Regions from separate parts of the Homo sapiens genome. Here region 2 is linked to region 1. A link means that fine-mapping ties the variant in region 1 to the expression of a gene that starts in the linked region. Tissue or cell type: whole blood. Region 1 holds a variant in brackets; the other region holds the start of a gene. All regions are shown on one strand. Distances are between the middles of the regions.

What was found.
Region 2: ZBTB38 starts here. The variant in region 1 is fine-mapped to the expression of ZBTB38 in whole blood (TOPMed, PIP above 0.99).

The regions. Positions count from the first base shown.
Region 1 is chr3:141,388,290-141,397,513 of GRCh38, reverse strand. All of the region lies in intron 4 of ZBTB38 (zinc finger and BTB domain containing 38), which reads right to left. Among named protein-coding and RNA genes, the nearest start is that of ZBTB38, 24 kb to the right of the region's middle. RefSeq lists enhancers at 3,348-3,958, 3,959-4,568. The variant G/A (reference allele first, on the strand shown) is at 4,188.
Region 2 is chr3:141,364,982-141,374,205 of GRCh38, reverse strand. ZBTB38 (zinc finger and BTB domain containing 38) reads right to left here and starts at 5,702. Exons shown (of 6, transcript NM_001376113.1): 1 at 5,402-5,702; 2 at 4,260-4,334. RefSeq lists enhancers at 1,249-1,298, 4,576-5,351, 5,806-6,035, 5,101-6,300, 6,128-6,903 and 1 more.

The DNA.
Region 1 (9,224 bases):
GCTAAGCATTTAGCCAAGTTGTAAGGAAAAGCTCCTGAAGGAAATTAAAAGGGATACTCCAATGAACACGGAAATGATAAGAAAGCCTTATTGCTGATCTGGAGAAAGAATGAGTGGTCAGGATACAGGATCAAACGAGCCACAACATTCCCTTTAGCCGAAGCCTAATCCAGAGTGAGGCCCTAACTCTCCTCAATTCTAGGAAGACTAGGAGAGGTAAGGAAGCTGCAGAAGAAAAATGTGGAGCAAGCAGAGGTTGGTTCATGAAGTGTGAAAAAGAAGCTGTCTCCATAACATAAAAGTGCAAAGTGAAGTAAGTGCTGATGTGGATGCTACAGCAAGTTATCCAGAAGATCTAGCTAAGACAATTGATGAAGGTGGCTACATTAAACAACAGATTTCCTATGTAGACAAAACAGCCTTCTATTGGAAGGAGATGTCACCTAGGACTTTCATAAATAGAGAGGAGAAATCAATGCCTGGCTTCAAAACTTCAATTAGGGGCTTATGAAGCTGGTGACTTTAAGTTGAAGCCAGTGCCCATTGACCATTATGAAAATCCTAGGACCTTTAAGAATTATGCTGAATCTACTCTGCCTGTACTCTATTAATGGAACAACAATGACTAGATGACAGCAGATCTAGTTTAGTGAATATTTTAAGCCCACTGTTGAGACCTACTGCTCAGAGAAAAGATTTCTTTCAAAATATTACTGCTCATTGACAATATACCTGGTCACCCAAGAACTGTGATGGACATGTACAAGGAGATAAATGTTGTTTTCATGCCTGCTAACACAACATCCATTCTGTAGTCCTGATCAAAGAATAATTTTGACTTTCAAGTCTTATTAAAAATATATTTCATAAGGCTATAACTGCCATAGACAGTGATTGCTCTGATGGATCTGGGCAAAGCAAATTGAAAACCTTTGGGAAAGGATTCACCATTCTAGATGCCATTAAGAACATTCATGATTAATGGAAGGAGGTCAAAATATCAACATTACCAGGAGTTTGGAAGATGTTGGTTCCAACCCTCATGGATGACTTTGAGAGATTCAAGACTTCAGTGGAGGAAGTAACTGCAGATGTGGTGGAAATAGCATAAGAACTAGAAGTGGAGCCTAAAGATGAGACTGAATTTCTGCAATCTTATTATAAAACTTGATCAGATGAGGAGTTGCTTCTTATGGATGAGCAAAGAAACTGGTTTCTTGAGGTGGAATCTATTCCAGGTGAAGACACTGTGAACCTTGTTGAAATGACAACAAAGGATATATGATATTACATAAATTTAGTTGATGAAGCAAGGACAAAGTTTCAGAAGACTGACTCTACTTTTGAAAGAAATTTCTACTGTGGGTAAAATGCTATCAAACAGTGCCACAAACTAAAGAGAAATCTTTTGTGAAAGTCAATAAATGCAGTAAACTTCACTGTTGTTTTATTTTAAGAAATCGCCACCCCAACCTTCAGCAACACAACACTGATTAGTCAGCAGCCTTCAACATCCAGGCAAGACCCTCCATCTGCAGACAGATTATGACTTGCTGAAGGCTCAGACATCAGTAGCATATTTTAGCAACAAATTATTTTTAAACTAAGGTATATACATTTTTAAGGCATAATGGTACTACACACTTAATAGACTACAGTATAATGCAAACACAACTTTTATATGCACCGGGAAACTAAAAAGTTTGTGCACCTTGCTTTATTGCAACATTCGCTTTATTGAAGTAGCCTGGAACCGAACCTGTGACATCTGAGGTATGCCAGTATTTCATGATGTGAAAATTATATGAAATGCAGATTTTAGAGTTTATAAGTGAAGTTTTGAGACACAGTCACATTCATTCATTTCTGTATCTGTGAATGATAGTATATCATTATTACTATACTTAATATTATATATTATTGTATTTTGAATTTCATAATACAAAATTTATGAAAATTTGCTTTGTCACTTGTTATATAAATACCTACGAAGTATCTTCAGTTTTGTCTTGACCCACTGTTAAACTAAATGTATAGAAGGCCATTGATTTAGACTGGCTCCTGCACTAAGCCCCAAGAGACCAAACCAAAATGGAGTCACTCACGCTAAAGTTCCACATCACCAAACTGAAATGAAGTTGTTTATCCGACTTGAGAAATTAGGAGAGAGATAATAGGCCAATTTTAGCCAGAATGATAAAGCAGTCCCCTCTGCTTTAACCTTTATAAGGAAAATTACCTGCAGTAACCTGATGTTAACCAATCTGCTTTTTGTATTATGTTATTTCCTTGTTCCTGCCTAAGCTACCTTATAAAAACCAATTGTTCTGCCATGCCCAACAGAATACCTTCCTATTTGTTATAGATAGCGTGCTGCCTGATTCACGAATTGCTAATAAAAACCAAGTAGATCTTTAAACTCAATTTGTTGAAAATTTGTTTTTTCATGCCATAAAGCCTAAAGTATTTGCTGTCTGATTCTTTACAGAAAAAGTTTGTCAGCCTCTGGTTTAGAATTTGGGCTTTCCCTGTGACCTCAAGGCAGCTTTAGTCAAAAGAGCACTGGTCTAGGAGTCATGCCTGGTTTCATTCCACCACTTAACTCTCCGAGAGACCTTAAGAAGTCCCATCTTCTCTGGGCCATGATTCCCTCAAAGATAGAGTATAGAGTCTAAAATCAATAAGGCAACAGAAACGTGTAGTTCAGATTCCCATAAGAGCTTAGCAGGAAGTACAGGGATGATGCAGTGCTAAATGCTGGTATGCCAGCCAGGTGTGGTTCTCCTGGAGACCAAGCGATTCAAACAATCAGAATATCCTTTGAGGATGGCTCCACAGGCACTCAGACTAGGGGCTGGATAGGCTGGTGAAGGAAGGAAGAGGAAGGCTCTGGGGGCTCCCAGAGCAAACTAGCATGCCTGCAGTGGGCAACCTGACTTTGGGGAAAATAATTTCTAAAATCTGCAGTGTACAGCAAGTATTTTGGGTAGGTCTTCAGTCTGTGCTTTGTAGATGACCAAAAGCACTTGATCACATAGCATGAATAAAAAGTCTGCTTATTTCATTTAATGTTTAATTCAGATCTAGTACAGTGATGGGGAGGAGGGTGGTAGGGGGTGGTGAGGAGTGGTGGTAAGGGGACCCTCTGGCATCCTCAGCATGTAGAATAGGAGACTTGGGAGAGAAATGGAAAGTTCAGGCTGGGCGCGGTGGCTCACGCCTGTAATCCCAGCACTTTGGGAGGCTGAGGCGGGCGGATCGCGAGGTCAACAGATTGAGACCATCCTGGCCAACATGGTGAAACCCCGTCTGTACTAAAAAAAATAAATACAAAAATTAGATGGGCATGGTGGTGCATGCCTGTAGTCCCAGCTACTCAGGAGGCTGAGGCAGAAGAATCACTTGAACCCAAGAGGCGGAGGTTGCAGTGACCTGAGATTGCGTCACTGCACTCCAGCCTGGCAACAGAACAAGACTCCGTTTCAAAAAAAAAAAAGAAAGAAAAGAAAGAAAGAAAAAAAAAAGAAATGGAAAGTTCTTATGACTCTGTAGTAAATAAATCACCTTTAAGGACATCAATCTGTAGGCGCTTCACAATCGCCAACGTGGGGCCATTAAGTAGCAAGGCCAACATTATGAGCGAAGCCAGAGAGTACATCATAGCACCCAGTCTGTATGCCGTAGGCCTGCAACCTGCATTTAAGGTCTCTCCTGAGCCTTCTTTTTCTAGTTGCAACCCCTTCCCACTTTCTCCCTGGTACCTTGTTCCCCCAGCTCCATGGCGCAGCAGAGCGGCATCTCCTTTTGTCCCCCTGGCTGCCTCCTGACTGCTTCCTTTGTTCCCTCTTTCTTATCTTCTGCATCCTCACCCTGCCCCCATGCTGCCCTCTCTATCTACAGCCAGCTCCCCATTTTGCTTCCCAGATGACCACCCCATTCTCTTCCGCACTGTTCCCCAGTACCCTGAGTACTTCAGAGAATCTTTCCATGGTGTAGTTCCTTCCTTTCCCTGCTCCAGGTTCCTCTCTTCCCTTCCTCAGTTCAAGAAACAAGAGAAAAGGAAAAAAAAATGACAAGGGCACTGCCCTTCTGGGATTTAACCACACTCTCAGCTGGTGGCTTTTGTTTTCTGGCTTCACTGGCTTGTAAGGCCCTCAGGGCAGGGACTCTACGTCATGCTCAGCGCT[G/A]GGGAAGGTCGGCAGGACTGTCAGGCCTTAATTAGAGCAAGGCCTCAGACAGGGTGGGAGATTTTAGCAAGCAAGAGGAAAAGAAATTTCAAAATATCCATTTGGCAGCAATGACCACAGAGTAAGGAAGAGGATTGTTTTATTGTAGAAAGCATATAATGAAAGCCTCCACTGCTTTTCATGAGCACAGAAAGAATATTTACACTGGCAATTTTCAAACCAAACAGCACCAGAAAACAAACTCCCTCCACAGGCCAAACATAGGGAGTGTTCAGTCTTGAACCCTGAGCAGGAATTGCTGCAGAAGCAAGGAGAACATTAAGGGGGAAAAAGTGCAAAATGAGTTATGAGATCAAAAGAGCAATTTTCTGGTCAATGAGACATTTAGGCTAAGGCAGTGGCATGCTGGGATCACCTAACAAAGACAATTGATTTTGCAACTGGTCTCTGATTTACCTGCTGCCCGGAAAGCCTTCTGCAGAACAGCCAGCATGGAGACCCCCCACTGTCAACCAGGGAAGGTAAGAAAGCAAAAACATCTTGCCTACATCACAAATTCAAATTTTTGCATTTGAGGGCTTCTCAACTTAACATCTGCTCATGAATGCAAAAGTGGCAGCCGTTATTGAGGTCACCTGGCAATGCAGGCGGACCAGCTTGAAGAAGGGCAGCCAGACATACGGTGGCTTATTAGGAGCCAAGACATCTCGGGAAGGTGGTGAGGTCAAGACACAAAGTCCAAGTGAAGAACTGTCCTTGTCATCAGCTGAAATGCCCCAAACTGAGGGATGGCCTCTAGCGAACAGTATAAAAGGCCATTAAGAGAACAGCATGCCATTTATTTCTTCCTGGAACAGGGAGGATACACAATTGTACTTGTCCATACAATGCTCTACCCTTGTGTGGGAACCTGGACTGCAGTTTCATAGGGGGACTATGTCATATTTCATTCTGCTTGGCTTATAGCAGTGTTTGGCACATAGCAGATGCTCAACAAATGCTCAAAGAAGTAAACTGAATTGTTGCAGTCCCCTTCCCCACTAATGGGCAGAGAGCCCCTTTACCACCAGCCCCCTTCCCCACTCTACTACAAAGGAACCGAACAAGCTTGTCTTCATGTTGTGGAATGTTTCAGGGCCTCTCAAAACCCAACGAAGTATAACATGCCAGCCAGGCCGCCTCTACTGTGATAAGCAAAGTCAGCTAAGTAATGAATCAATTTTAGACGGTGCTTCTGAAATGTTTAGAAGGCTCAAAAGAGCCTTATAGTTTCTAACTCACATAGCAAACTTCTCCCTTTGTTCCCTGACCTTTGTCAACAGAATAACCTGAAAAGCATGAAAGAGTTCTGGTTCTTAAGAAGAATTTTTTAAAGAATGACTTGCTCTAATAGAGGAAAAAAAACCTCACTAGTTCTTTAGAAAGCCACCAACAGGCAAAGATGTGTGCAGAGCTGAAGCGTTTTAGCAAAACCTGAAAAAAACTTCACTCTGATGGGAGGCATTTTAGGACTAAGACAATCTACTGGCCAGATGAGATGAGATGAGACAAACCCTTCCACCATTTTGCCTTTGAAAAAAATTCAATGACTATCTCAATGTTTTGCCATTGGTTTAAATTCCAGAATTCTTATGAAAAATAAAGCAAGAGGCTTCTCAGAAATTTCTCTACTCTGAGAGGTCTTTCTTCTGTGCATTTCTTGGGTTGACACTGAATCTGTGCCAGAATTTCATCACCACCTAGCACTGCAATGTACTCTACCTTCTGAAGCAGTTTCAGGGTCGTGACGGGGTCAAAGGCAATGACCCCATGAGTACCAGACTCTGGGAGTTTGACTGGCTAAAACCAGTCACAGGGACCTGGGCCATCCTCTTACTGTAGGGGAAGCTTACCTAAGTTAAGCCTCAGTCCTTGAAACTGTCAGACCTGGCTCTGAGATAGCAACATTTACACAAAGAAAGGAAAGTTTGAAGGCTGAGCATGAGCACTCCTCTCCTGGTAATGCCCCACGTCAGATCTTCACCTGACTAGATCCTTCTCAGCACACGATCTTCACTTAAATGCTACATCCTCAGAACATTCTGATCAACCATTTTAAAGTGGCTCTCCTCCCTAGAACCACATAACCCTCACTTATTTTATTTTTTTTAATTTTAATTTTTTTTTAGAGAAAGAGTCTTGCTTTTTTGCCCAGGCTGGAGTGCAGTAGTATGATTCTAGCTCACTGCAACCTCGAACTCCTGGGCTCAAGTAATACTCCTACCTCAGCCTCCGGCATAGCTAGGACTACAGGTGCACACCAGCCACCGTGTCCAGTTAATTTTTAAAATTTTTTGTGGAGATGGGGTCTTGCTATGTTGCCCAGGCTGGTCTCAAACTCCTGGTCTCAAGCAATCCTCCCGTCTTGGCTTCCCAAAGTGTTGGGGTTACAGGCATGAGCCACTGTGCCTGGCCCACTTTCATTTTAAAATTTTTAATTTTCCTCTGTGCACTTGCCTTCTTTATTTACATCTATATTTTTGCTTATTCCCCTCCCTGCAAGCACCCTCCCGTCCTCTGGAATATGCCTGGCATGTAGCAGATGCTCAATAAATGTGTTGACTGTTTATTTACCAAGAGAGCTGTTAAGAACAGGATTTCCCTTGGAAAGGAGCTGTTAGAATGAACCACATGGTACCAGGAACTTAAAGACTTAGCATGACCTAGTACTAAAGAGAAAGTGCTAGATCTCTTTCTAGATTCTTCTCACATAACAGTGAAGAGGCTCTAAGTCATAGTCTGATTCCCAGTCCATCTCCGGGGGATCCATGGAAATGGATGGGGTAGATCAATACCACTCTAGTATTATGGCAAGAGATGCAATCTTGGTATTATAGTATTATAAATATTATAGTATTTTATATTATAAATCATTCCAACAGAAAACCACATATTTGCCCATTTTGTTTTGGTGAGAACAGTGCAATTGTTTGCACAGTCTTGCTGTCACACCTGCTCTGGCCTGCCCAGTAAAAATACCGGAGCCAAAAAGTGTAAATGGGTTCAGGATAGCTTTTCAAACAATGAGATGGGGTAAGTGCCATCCTCTACAATCATCAAGAAGCATTTTCAGCTAATCTTGGAAATTCAATAATAATTGTAAATGGGTAAGTTTAGGAAAGCTTTGTGCCTTGTCAAGATTGCTGTGAAATATGAAGGCAAAGTATTAAGGTGAAACACAACGAAGTAATATATAGTAATTATTATTCTATTCACTGGTTTATTTATTAGAATGACGATGGTACGATACACTTCCCAACAATCTTATTTGGCTTTCTAGATCCTTGAATTGGGTTTAAAATTCTTTTAGGCAAGACTAAGAGCAACATAAGTGAATAATGCCACAAAAAAACGCCATTAAGTATGAAAATCTACAAGATGACGCAACCATGCTTGAGTCACAAACAAAAGAATCGACATTCTATAAAGAAGAAATACACTGTTGAATCTATCAGGCATTCATTTTAATGGTAAAACAATTGCATTGCATCCATCTAATCTTGTAATTAAGATTCAAATAGGTGCAAAATGATTACTTTGTACTGGCCTATCAAAATAGAAGACATTGTAGTTATAAGCTTTCTGACTAGCAGTAGTGTTTTAATTATAAATGCCTGGCTCATTATTTGCTCAAGAGCGAATGACAATTAGCTTGATCCTATTGCAACTGTTAATGCTGTTGGTACTAAAAAAAATAGGCAATATTGAATCAGGTTTCTGATATTTCCCTTCAGTTTACAATCTTCTGATTGATACTATATTCAAAATGTACTTAGTCATTTAAAGTCACAGGCAAGAAGGAAAATGGCTCCCAACAGCCAAAAAAAAAAAAAAAAAAGGTGTTGCAGGAAGGGTATTTCATGGCAAGCCTGGAGAACAAAATCAGTATGAGATGAATCACGTTCCAAAATAATTGAACCAGAGAAAGACTCCAAGCAAAATATTTTAGTTGGCCACAAAACAACATGACAACAACCACCACCACCCTTCAGCCCATTAGAGAGGTTCAATTCTACGATAGTGCTATGGAATAGAATATTAGTTAAACTGCTAGAATAAAGCAGCCATTTACACAGATGGTTTTGAATCTCAATGTTCTTCACATTGAAGCAAACCTCGGGGAGGTTTCAGGTTTAGCACCATCTTCCTAACACACCTATAGAGATATTTCCACAAAGGTTCAGGGTGCACTTGTCATTGGAGGGGTAGGCTTGGATGTGGGTCCTTTTCTACCGACAGCACTGAGGTTACCAACGGAGGGATCAGGGAAGGCAAGAGTACAAGCATTTTCTGATTCTCAGAATTTCTGAAATACCTTTTGTTTCAGTGGCGCTGGTGAACTTGTGATAATGAAACTACACCTCTGTACACAAACCTTGACCTGCATTCTGGAGCATACTGCAAAGAAAACCTTAATTTTGAAAGTACTGAGCACAAAGGAGGGAGAGAAAAGCTGTCACTGTGCAAGCTTTCTCTATATGTTTAGAAACATGGCTTAATTTTTAAGGCTTGAAGACCGCATTAAAAACCATCTAAAACCAGTTCAGATTCTATATGAGAGGAAAAAGAACTGTAAATTTTTCATTAAACATTTGTTTCCTTTTTAAAGACATTCTTTTGCATATCTGTTATTACATGTTTAAATACGATTTGGTTACCAAGGAAACAGGTTCTGGCCCAGTGTTAAATTTGAAACTAAAATATATTTGAGAAGTTAAGTTCAAAAGAAAGAGCTCATGAAATTATTTTGAAAAGTGCCAGAACCACAGCTATATGGTCTGCAATGAACCATTCTAGGGGCTCGGTTTCATTTAGTGAAGCTCTATTTCTTTTAAGAGGGCCATCTATATTTAATATTTCCCTCTTTAAAAATTGTAACTCCTCATCCCCCCAAATTATATACATAATATAATGTATTCTTGTATATTACCTAAAATTAATTTTGGAAGCATATCAGTTTTTATTTTCATCTTTCATAAACACGTTTAAAGACCGCTT
Region 2 (9,224 bases), 23 kb after region 1:
ATAATGATAATAACAATATCAAAAGTCAAAGCACCAATACTGACCATAATTATGATGATTATTTTTTATCAACACTTTTTTTTTTTTTTCCTCTGTTGCCTAGGCTGGAGTACAGTGGCCCAGTCGTGGCTCACCACAACCTCCGCCTCCTGGGTTCAACCAATTCTCATACCTCAGCCTCCCAAGAAGCTGGGATTACAGGCATGTGCCACCAAGCCCAGCTAATTTTTGTATTTTTAGTAGAGGCAGGGCTTCACGATTTTGGCTGGGCTGGTCTTGAACTCCTGGCCTCAAGCAATCTGCGCACCTCAGCCTCCCAAAGTGCTGGGATTTCCGGTGTGAGCCACCACTCCCGGCCTTTATCAGCAGTTTACCTTGACATGCACTTTTCTAAGTTGCCCATATCATTTTGCATATATCACCTACTTATTCTGACAGAGTCTCAGCATTACATTTTCTAACAATACTATTTTGGAGGTAGGAGGGAGCTTTAAAGTTCTGATGAAAACCAGAAGCTTCTTGAGTTAAAAACAAAACCCTGAAGTGTGGTATTTTCCAACTTGGTTCTTGACAAGAAATTAGGGGATTTCAGTGTGAGAAATTATAAAGCCCTATTACTATGAATTCTTAGTTTTGGTGAATATGATGTGGTATTTCTGCAAAACTCTCTAAGGAGAGTGACAGAACATTCATGATGCTGACCCATGGGGAGAAAGGAGCTTGCACACCTGTGCTATGACAATTCTAAAACCTCAGGGATTAAAATACTCAACTAGTGTAAGAGCTGCCTGTGTGAGACTGTGTGCTCAGTCCACATCTGCTCATCATGGCTCAACAAGGCCAGGCTCAGATCTTTAGATGACCTAAGCTCTGAAAAGACTATAGTGCCTCAAATTTGAATTATTACTCCCATGTGAAATTAAAATAGAAAAAAATAACAAAATACAAAATTAAGGTTGAGAAAGCTCAACAAAGTCTAACTTTTCCCAGGCTGTCTCCTTTGATGCTTTTTTTGAAATGTCAAATATCAAAATATTTACAAAATGTGTGTTTGTACACAATCCTGCTTTGCTGATGTTGTCTGTGAGGTCACTCAGCATCCAGTGGTCACAGGGATCTATGGCTTTCTTTCAAACACAAAGTGTTGACAGTAGTGAAATTCTGGTACCTGATGTGGTGGTCTTACTCCCCTTCCTGTAGTAATATGCAGCTAGAAATTAGAAATCAGGAGGCTGGCCCCCTCCCCCAACCCTAACACCATTCATATGTCAACTACTGCATACTTAGTGCTTTGAGGAGTCATAACAGATGGTAGTTGAAATTAGCAAGCTGTGATTAGCCATTCTCCCACATGAATGGACCCTGATGTTGACTGAGACCTTTGGCTCTGCCCTTCCTGAAAGACTCTGTTAGGCTAGGACTTCCAGCAACACATCATCCCCATTTGGCTCCAGCTTTTGAAATCTGGCACATATTCTTAACTTATTCCTTCAACTGCACCCTTCTAGCAGGCACTGTATTCCCCATTCACCTGGTCTTTTTTTTTTTTTTTGGAGATGGAGTTTCTCTCTTGTTGCCCAGGCCGGAGTCCTGTGGTGTGATCTCGGTTCACTGCAACCTCTGCCTCCCAGGTTCAAGCAATTCCCCTGCCTCAGCCTCCCAAGTAGCTGGGATTATAGGTGTGCGCCACCCTGCTCGGCTAATTTTGTATTTTTTTTTAGTAGAGATGGGGTTTCACCATGTTGGTCAGGCTGGTCTTGAACTCCTGACCTCAAGTGATCCACCTGCCTCGGCCTCCCAAAGTGCAGGGATTATAGGCATGAGCCACCATGCCCAGCCCAACCTGGTCTTATCATTAGCTTATACCACTAGCCCAGCCAGCTCCCCGATCAATAGACACTTTCAGTTCCTAACAACTTGGAAAGACAGACTTTCAGAGGCTGAAGTATTTTTGCAGCAACTCATCTTGTTATTCTATTCCATTCCTCCTCAGCTCCATCCTAATGTAAGGGGACTGGGCAGAGGCTAGGCAGCCATAACAGGAGAGTAGGCCAGGCATCAGCCTCTGTCAGATATCTGAGAAGCTGTGGCAAATTGGCCAGTAACAGGTATCCCCACACAACAGACAATACATGCTCTTCAGGGTGTGGATGTGGGTGCCAGAAAGGTCAAGTCCAGGGGCAAAAGTCAATCAGAAACCAGAGTGTTTAGTCAGATATTGACAAAACTAGAGAACTAGGTACCAGGCACCTCAGGCAAAGACTTGAGTTCATTTTTATTTCACACCTTTAAGTCTGGGGCATCACAAGGCACCCATCATATGGTTTATATTTACGAATGAGGGGAATACTTCACCAACATCAACAATGGTTAGAAGGTTACATAAAATGTTAAACTTATTAAAAGTTCTCCAAACAGAGCTTACAACTTTACCACTTATTATTTCAGTAAATGTTTTGAAACTTTTCCTGAAAATAAAAAGCTAGACATATATATCACATCTTTTGGGGTAGCATTAATAGCCCCAGCCTGAGACTTTTTAGTCTACTTTTAAATGTTTCTCGGCTGGGCCCGGTGGCTCATGCCTGTTATCCTAGCACTTTGGGAGGCCAAGGTGGGTGGTGGATTGCTTGAGCCCAGGAGTTCAAGACCAGCCTGGGCAACATGGTGAAACCTTGTTTCTACAAAAAATACAAAAATTAGCCAGGCATGGTGACACATGCCTGTAGTCTCAGCTACTTGGGAGGATCGCTTGAGCCTGAGAAGTTGAGGCTGCAGTGAGCCATGATCGTGCCACTGCACTCCAGCCTGGGTGACAGAGTGAAACCCTGTCTCAAAGAAAAAAAAAGTTTCTCGGCTGGGCGCTATGGCTCATGTCTGTAATCTCAGCACTTTGGCAGGCCAAGGCCGGCAGATCACGAGGTCAAGAGATGGAGACCATCCTGGCCAACATGGTGAAACCCCATCTCTACTAAAAATACAAAAATTAGCTGGGTGTGGTGGTGCGTGCCTGCAGTCCCAGCTACTCAGGAGGCTGAGGCAGTAGAATCACTTGAACCTGGGAGGCAGAGGTTGCAGTGAACTGAGATCATGCCGATGCACTCCAGCCTGGCAACAGAGTGAGACTCTGCCTCAAAAAAAAAAAAAAAAAAAAAAAAAAGAAAGAAAGAAAAGAAAAGAAAAAACAGTTTAATAACTTGGTTTAAAGGTCTAACCTTCGGGAATTTTCACCCTGATCAAATGTCCCAAGACCTGGAGCAGATCCTGTAGGATACATTTCCAAAGCCTCCAGTAGCAGAGAAAACTACGAGCTAAGGAAGTCAAGAGCTTTCCTATAGACCACTGGGGCTCATAGTTGGGGGAGCAGAATTCTGTCACAATTCCAACTAATATGACTAGATCCAGGAAGAAGAGAAAGCCAGTATAGTCCTAGACCAAGAGGATCCTGAGAGGAAAAATAAGTAAAAGGAAATAAGGAAAATGTCCTTCATGGTTCACTGGCCATGGGCAACATGATGCTTAGGGTCATAATGGACAGAGGTGTTGAGAAATCTCATCCATTGCATCTTGCCCTCATGGCCAGATGTTACCTAAGAGTGTCAGTCAGGAAAACCTAAATGTGGATAATTGTTTACTTCTCCCACTGTTTCTATGCAACTTTATCCTTGAGTATCTCCAAGTTTCTTTTATGTGCTGTGCCAGAGAGAACTACCTCTTCTTCAGAAACCCCTCCAGAGCTGTCACTGCTAAGTGGCTGCTCCACCAAGGACTACATTTCCCAGACTCCTCTGTGGTTAGCTGTGGTCATGTGATGGAGTTTTAGCCAATGGAATGTGAGTAGAAGTAACACGCACCACTTCTAGGCAGAGCCCATAAAAAACTCCCATGTGCACTTTTTCATGCTCTTTTCTTACTGCACTGAGGAGTGGAGACACCCCTAGGCGACCTTGAAAACCACATGCTGCAGAAGGCAAAGCCCCTCTCTACCTGTGTCTCTGAATGAATGCATGAAAGACAGTTGCCCCACTGACCTGTACTGTTACATGAGCAAGAAATAAACTATTGTGTTTGAGCCATTATAGATTTGGGGTTCTATTATAACAATTAGCCTATCCTAATATCCTTTTTAATATAGCTGTAATCATTGTGTACAGAAATCTCTGTGCCCTTTCCCCTTTTCTTTGAATCTTACCACAAACTAAAAAAGGAGAATTGGGAGACTTAAATTTAAGTAGCTGTTGGGGACAAATGACACTTACCAAATTAGTGGTCACAACATTCAGATCTTAGAGCCAGAAGAACAGGACTACAGCAGAGCCTCACTTCAAGACAACCTAATATATTAAAGTAAAACAAAAAGTAAAACATAAGGCCTATAAAACAGATATTTTAGTGTGTGATAGTTAATTTCCAAAGGGAGTTGTCCATTTACAAAGGAATATGCCACTGTTTTCCAGTAAATGACAAGCTTCCTTACTGCCTTTAAAATGAGACTTACGCCTCCCCGCTCCCAGTCATTTTAACATAGAATTTCTGAAGAACAGATCTCCCCTGGTACGTCAGCTATACGAAGACTAGATGCTGACTCAGGGGATGACTTAGAAGCCGGGAAAATCAGGGTATGATTTCTATGCCTACGTGCTGTTCTCATGTATGTGTCAAAACTTTTCTCTTGGGAACTTAACTTTCTTGGGTAGGAACTTCCAGAGGTCGTGAAATTATAGGCTTTGTAAAGAACTATGAGTTTTTAGACAAAGTTAAAACAGACACATTGTGTCTTTGTGCTTAATATCATCCCAGATACGATGGCACAAGTAGGAATGAAAATAAGTCCTCTGTAAACAGGGCGATAAGATAATGGAGGTTCATACACAGAACAATCAGAAACGTGCTCAGTAAAGGCAGCACAATTATGTACATCTTTTTACCAGGGCTGTCATATTTTACCAGGTTAAGTGTGAAAATACCATTTGATGGCACAGGACACGTATTTGCCTAGAACAGGGTTTATTTTTATGTCTGATCGCTCAGTATAAGATCTAGGAAGCAAACAATCCAGAACTCTGAACAAACATTCTGACAGCCTGAAACGGAATACTCAGGTGAGGGGAGGAAGAGGAGGCAAAACAAGAGGGTTGACAGGGAAAGGCATCAGTTGGGCTGTTCTCCCCAGGGTTTCCGTCTTAGTATTGTTTTTTTTTTTTTTTTTTGCATTCTTTTCTGATCCTGTGGAGAGAGATATCAGATCCCTTTGGGGCCGTATTTAGAGGGTCTCCCAAATGCAGTCCCTACTCCCAACTCTGGGCTGGGGCTTGGCAAGCTGTAGGCGTCAGGGAACAAGATGGCGCCCTACGGTGAAGGGCGCTGAGTGAGGGGGGGCCAAAAGTGGGCCTTCACTTACTCGGAGGCGCTGGCTCCTCTGAAACCCAGACGCTGTCAACTCCCTGGGCCCAGGAGTCACAACCGCTTTCGTGCTCTGGGTTCTTCACTTCTTGTGATCAGCTCCACATATTTTTCTGATGATGTCACCCATTCTGACTTCCTACATTTTGAAAGTTGATCTACAAGTAAAATCTTTCGTGAGGCTTAAAAAAAAGAAGAAAAGAAATAAAAGGTGTGCTATAGGGAGATGGAGAGGAAGAGAAAGGCCGTTGCCTCTTTATTTTGAGATTTGCTGCAGCTGCGAGTGCCACTCCCCAACTAGTTTCCTGGCTTCAGAGGGAGGCCAGTGGCCGGGCGTGGGTGACGTCAGGGCCAGGCCTGAGTCATCGCCAGCAGCCCGGGCCGGGCTGCCCTGCCACTCGGAAGGGGACAAAAGGAACCTTTGATGTCCAGAGGCCCTCCTCTCAGCACACTCGCCGGCACAGACCAGCAGGCCAGGAGAACATTCCTGCCGTCTCCCCACCCCCAGCCGCCCTTCCTACTTCCGGAACAGCCCCAGACAGATTCAACAAGGCCTCCCCAAAGGACATCACCCTCCTGCATGGCAGAGGCATGGCCGTGCTCTGTCAGAGAAGCAGGGAAGAAGAAGAGGGTGTTTCCCTGGGGACCTCTCACTGCCCCTCTGCCATCCCCCTTCTTCTGTGTGGTGCCCACCTTACTCAAGGAGTTGCAGTGGTATTGAAAGAGATGCGGAAAGGTGGAAGGCACTTTTGTCACCATCCCCGGGCAGCTCCTGGTGGTCAGTGTCTATTCTCCTCTGCCTCTGTGCTGTGGCCCTGGGCTTCGCTCCCTACCCTGGGTGCCAACATGAACTAGCTCTTCCTGGATTTAAGACATGACCACTCTTTAAAGGGGATATTTATATCTCAGTGCCTGGCATGAGGCTTGGTAATTATATGATGAATTAAGGAATGATAATTGTAAAATAAAATAGTAGAGGACACATATTAAATACTTAGAGTGAACATTCAAGCCTCTGTGCTTTATGAAGATTATTTCATTTATTGGTATTATCACAACAAAAAAGCTGTGAGGTAGGTACTATTAATATTCCTAATGCTATAGAGAAAGAAATGGATGCTCAGAGAGGTTAAGACACTTCTCTAAAGCCTCACAGCTAGTTAGTTCATGGCAGAGCCTGGATCATCTAATCTCACATCCTGTTTTCTTAATCACGGTGCTGAGTGGCTGGAGTGAATGAAGGAATATTGACCAAGGGCAACCTGGCCAGGAGAAAAGAGACAAAGATGGGACTTGAAACCACATCCTACAAGGAAACAATGAAACAATTAGGAATGTTCTGGCAACATGGGCCTCATGCCTTCTTACTGCGTCAACACCAGGTCTGAGGTTTGGCAAGTGGGTGGCTTACTCAGCGTAGCCAGGAGGGCGAATCAGTCATCAGGTTCAAGTGGGGATGAGAAACTAGGGAGGTCGGATGGACGCAAGCCTGTGGCATGTGGTAGATGCAAAATCCGAGAGCCACGGGGTACAGAGTACCTCGGCGGGAGCCAGAGTCCACGCTTGTCTTTGTTGCCTTCTGGCCTCATGGATGTAGGTGGGAGGGTCAGTCCATCTGGGGTGGACAAGAAGGCTACAGGAAGAAGGACATGACGGCACTCTCAAAGATTCCAGACTCAGAAAGAGTTGGAACTGTGGTGTGGTTTTAGAGTGCAGGAGGAGTGAGAAGGGATTGGGAACAGATCTGGACCTGACAATGGTAGTTACTTTCTACTCTTAGCGCCCTCCTACCAGGAATCAGCTGCCTTTCTGGGCCTGAGGAAGAGTCCTGGCAATGGCTGTGGGCAAGCAAAGGCGAGGAGGGGTGGTGAGAAGAGAACATCTGCTTATCGGGGTATCTGGGCCCAGCATAAGAATGACCTACGAGGTAGCTTCTCCCTCTGTGGTTTATGATTCTGTGGTTTGTACTTTTCCATGATTCTCTTAGAGTAAATGTCTCATTCCAAGAGGAAGACAAAACCAGGAATTTCCAGCCCCTTGTGGAGGCCTCCTTGATAACACACCCACAGCTTTCCTTCCCACTGTGGGTGGGGTGTCAGGTCACAGAGACCACTCTCCCTGACTCAGGCAATCTATGCCTCTGATGCCTGGGACATTGTGTAGTTCTACCTTGTTCCTGGGAGCTCTGCCAGTTGCCACTCTGAGGAATTGCACTTGTTCCATGTAGTTTGAATCCCTAGGCAGGTGGAATTTATAGAGGTGAATTTCACAAGAGAGAAAGCTACATGCTTTTAATCAAGGGAGCAGCAGCAACTGATCAGGTTCACTGTCAGTGTCTGCACACAGCCTGATCTTGGGCTGAGGAAATCGCTTTAAGTTCCAGGCATTTTTGGCAGAAGACTTGTTTATTCTTTTCTTCCTTCTCTGCAGAAAATGCCTCTGGGCACCTCCCTGCTCTGTTTCCCCAAAGACTCAGTGGCCTTGCTTGCTTCATATACACAGGTATTTATTTCTCTAATAAGATGAACAGAGGCTGATTATTTCTTCACCCTGCATCCTATCAGGATAATGTGAACAGAAAAATAAAGAAAAGAAGCAGAAATGATCAGTAAGCTTAAGTGAGACACAGATTCTTGGGTTATATGCTCTGGGGTTGATACTAACAGTGAAAATAAAATCAGAGAACTGGGAAAAATATCCACTTGGAGATACAGAGAAGTAAGTACAATGGCACTTCCCTGGTCTCTACGTGAAGTGGAGCATCCTCCTCCTTTGCTACAACAAATGCAGTTAAATGCTGGTAATTAAAACCAAACCTTTATGAATGCAAGGAATTCCTTGGAAGACTTGTCTATACTTGTTGACTTAGATTTCTCTCATTTTATTCCCTCTCTTTAAAAAAAATTATTAAGGTATAATTTACATATCAGAAAGTTCACTCACTTAAAGTGTACAATTCAATGGGTTTTAGTGTATTTACAGAATTATGTAATTTGTAATCTATTTTTTTTTAACACTTTTTGTCACCACCCCAAAAAACACCATGCTTATTAGGTATCATTCTTCATTTGTCCCCACCTACCAGCCCTAGATGACCACTCATCTAGTTTCTGTCTCTATAGATTTTCCTCTTCTGGACATTTTCTACAAATGGAATCATACAATATATGGTTCAAATATTTGTCCTCTCCAAAACTCATGTTGAAATTTAATCTCCAATATGGCAGTACTGAGAGGTGGGGTCTTTCAGAGGTGGTTAATCCACTCATGGATTAATGGATTAATTGGTTAATGGATTAATGGGTTATCACAAGAGAGAGACTTGTGGCTTTATAAGAAGAGGAAGAGGGACCTGAGCTAGCACTCTCAGCCACCTTGCCATGTAATGTCCTGTGTCACCTTGGGACTTGGCAGAGAGTCCGCACCAGCAAGAAGGTCCTCACCAGATGTGATCCCTAGACTTTGGACTTCTCAGCCTTCATAACTGTAAGAAGTGAATTTCTTTTCTTTATAAATTACCCAGGTTCAAGTGTTCTGTTTAAGCAACAGCAAATGAACTAAGGCATAGAATACTTTAGTACTTCTTTCCTTTTTATGCCCAAATAATATTCCACTGTGTGGGTATACAACATTTTGTTTATCCAAATCTCAGTTGATGAACACTTGAGTTGTTTTCACTTTTTGGCTGTTATGAATAATGTTGCTATGAACATTCATGTGCAAGTTTTTTTTTTGTGGACATGCATTCATGTCTCTTGGGTAGACACAAAAGAGTGGGATTGCTGAGTGATATCGTACTATGTTTAACATTTTGAGAAACT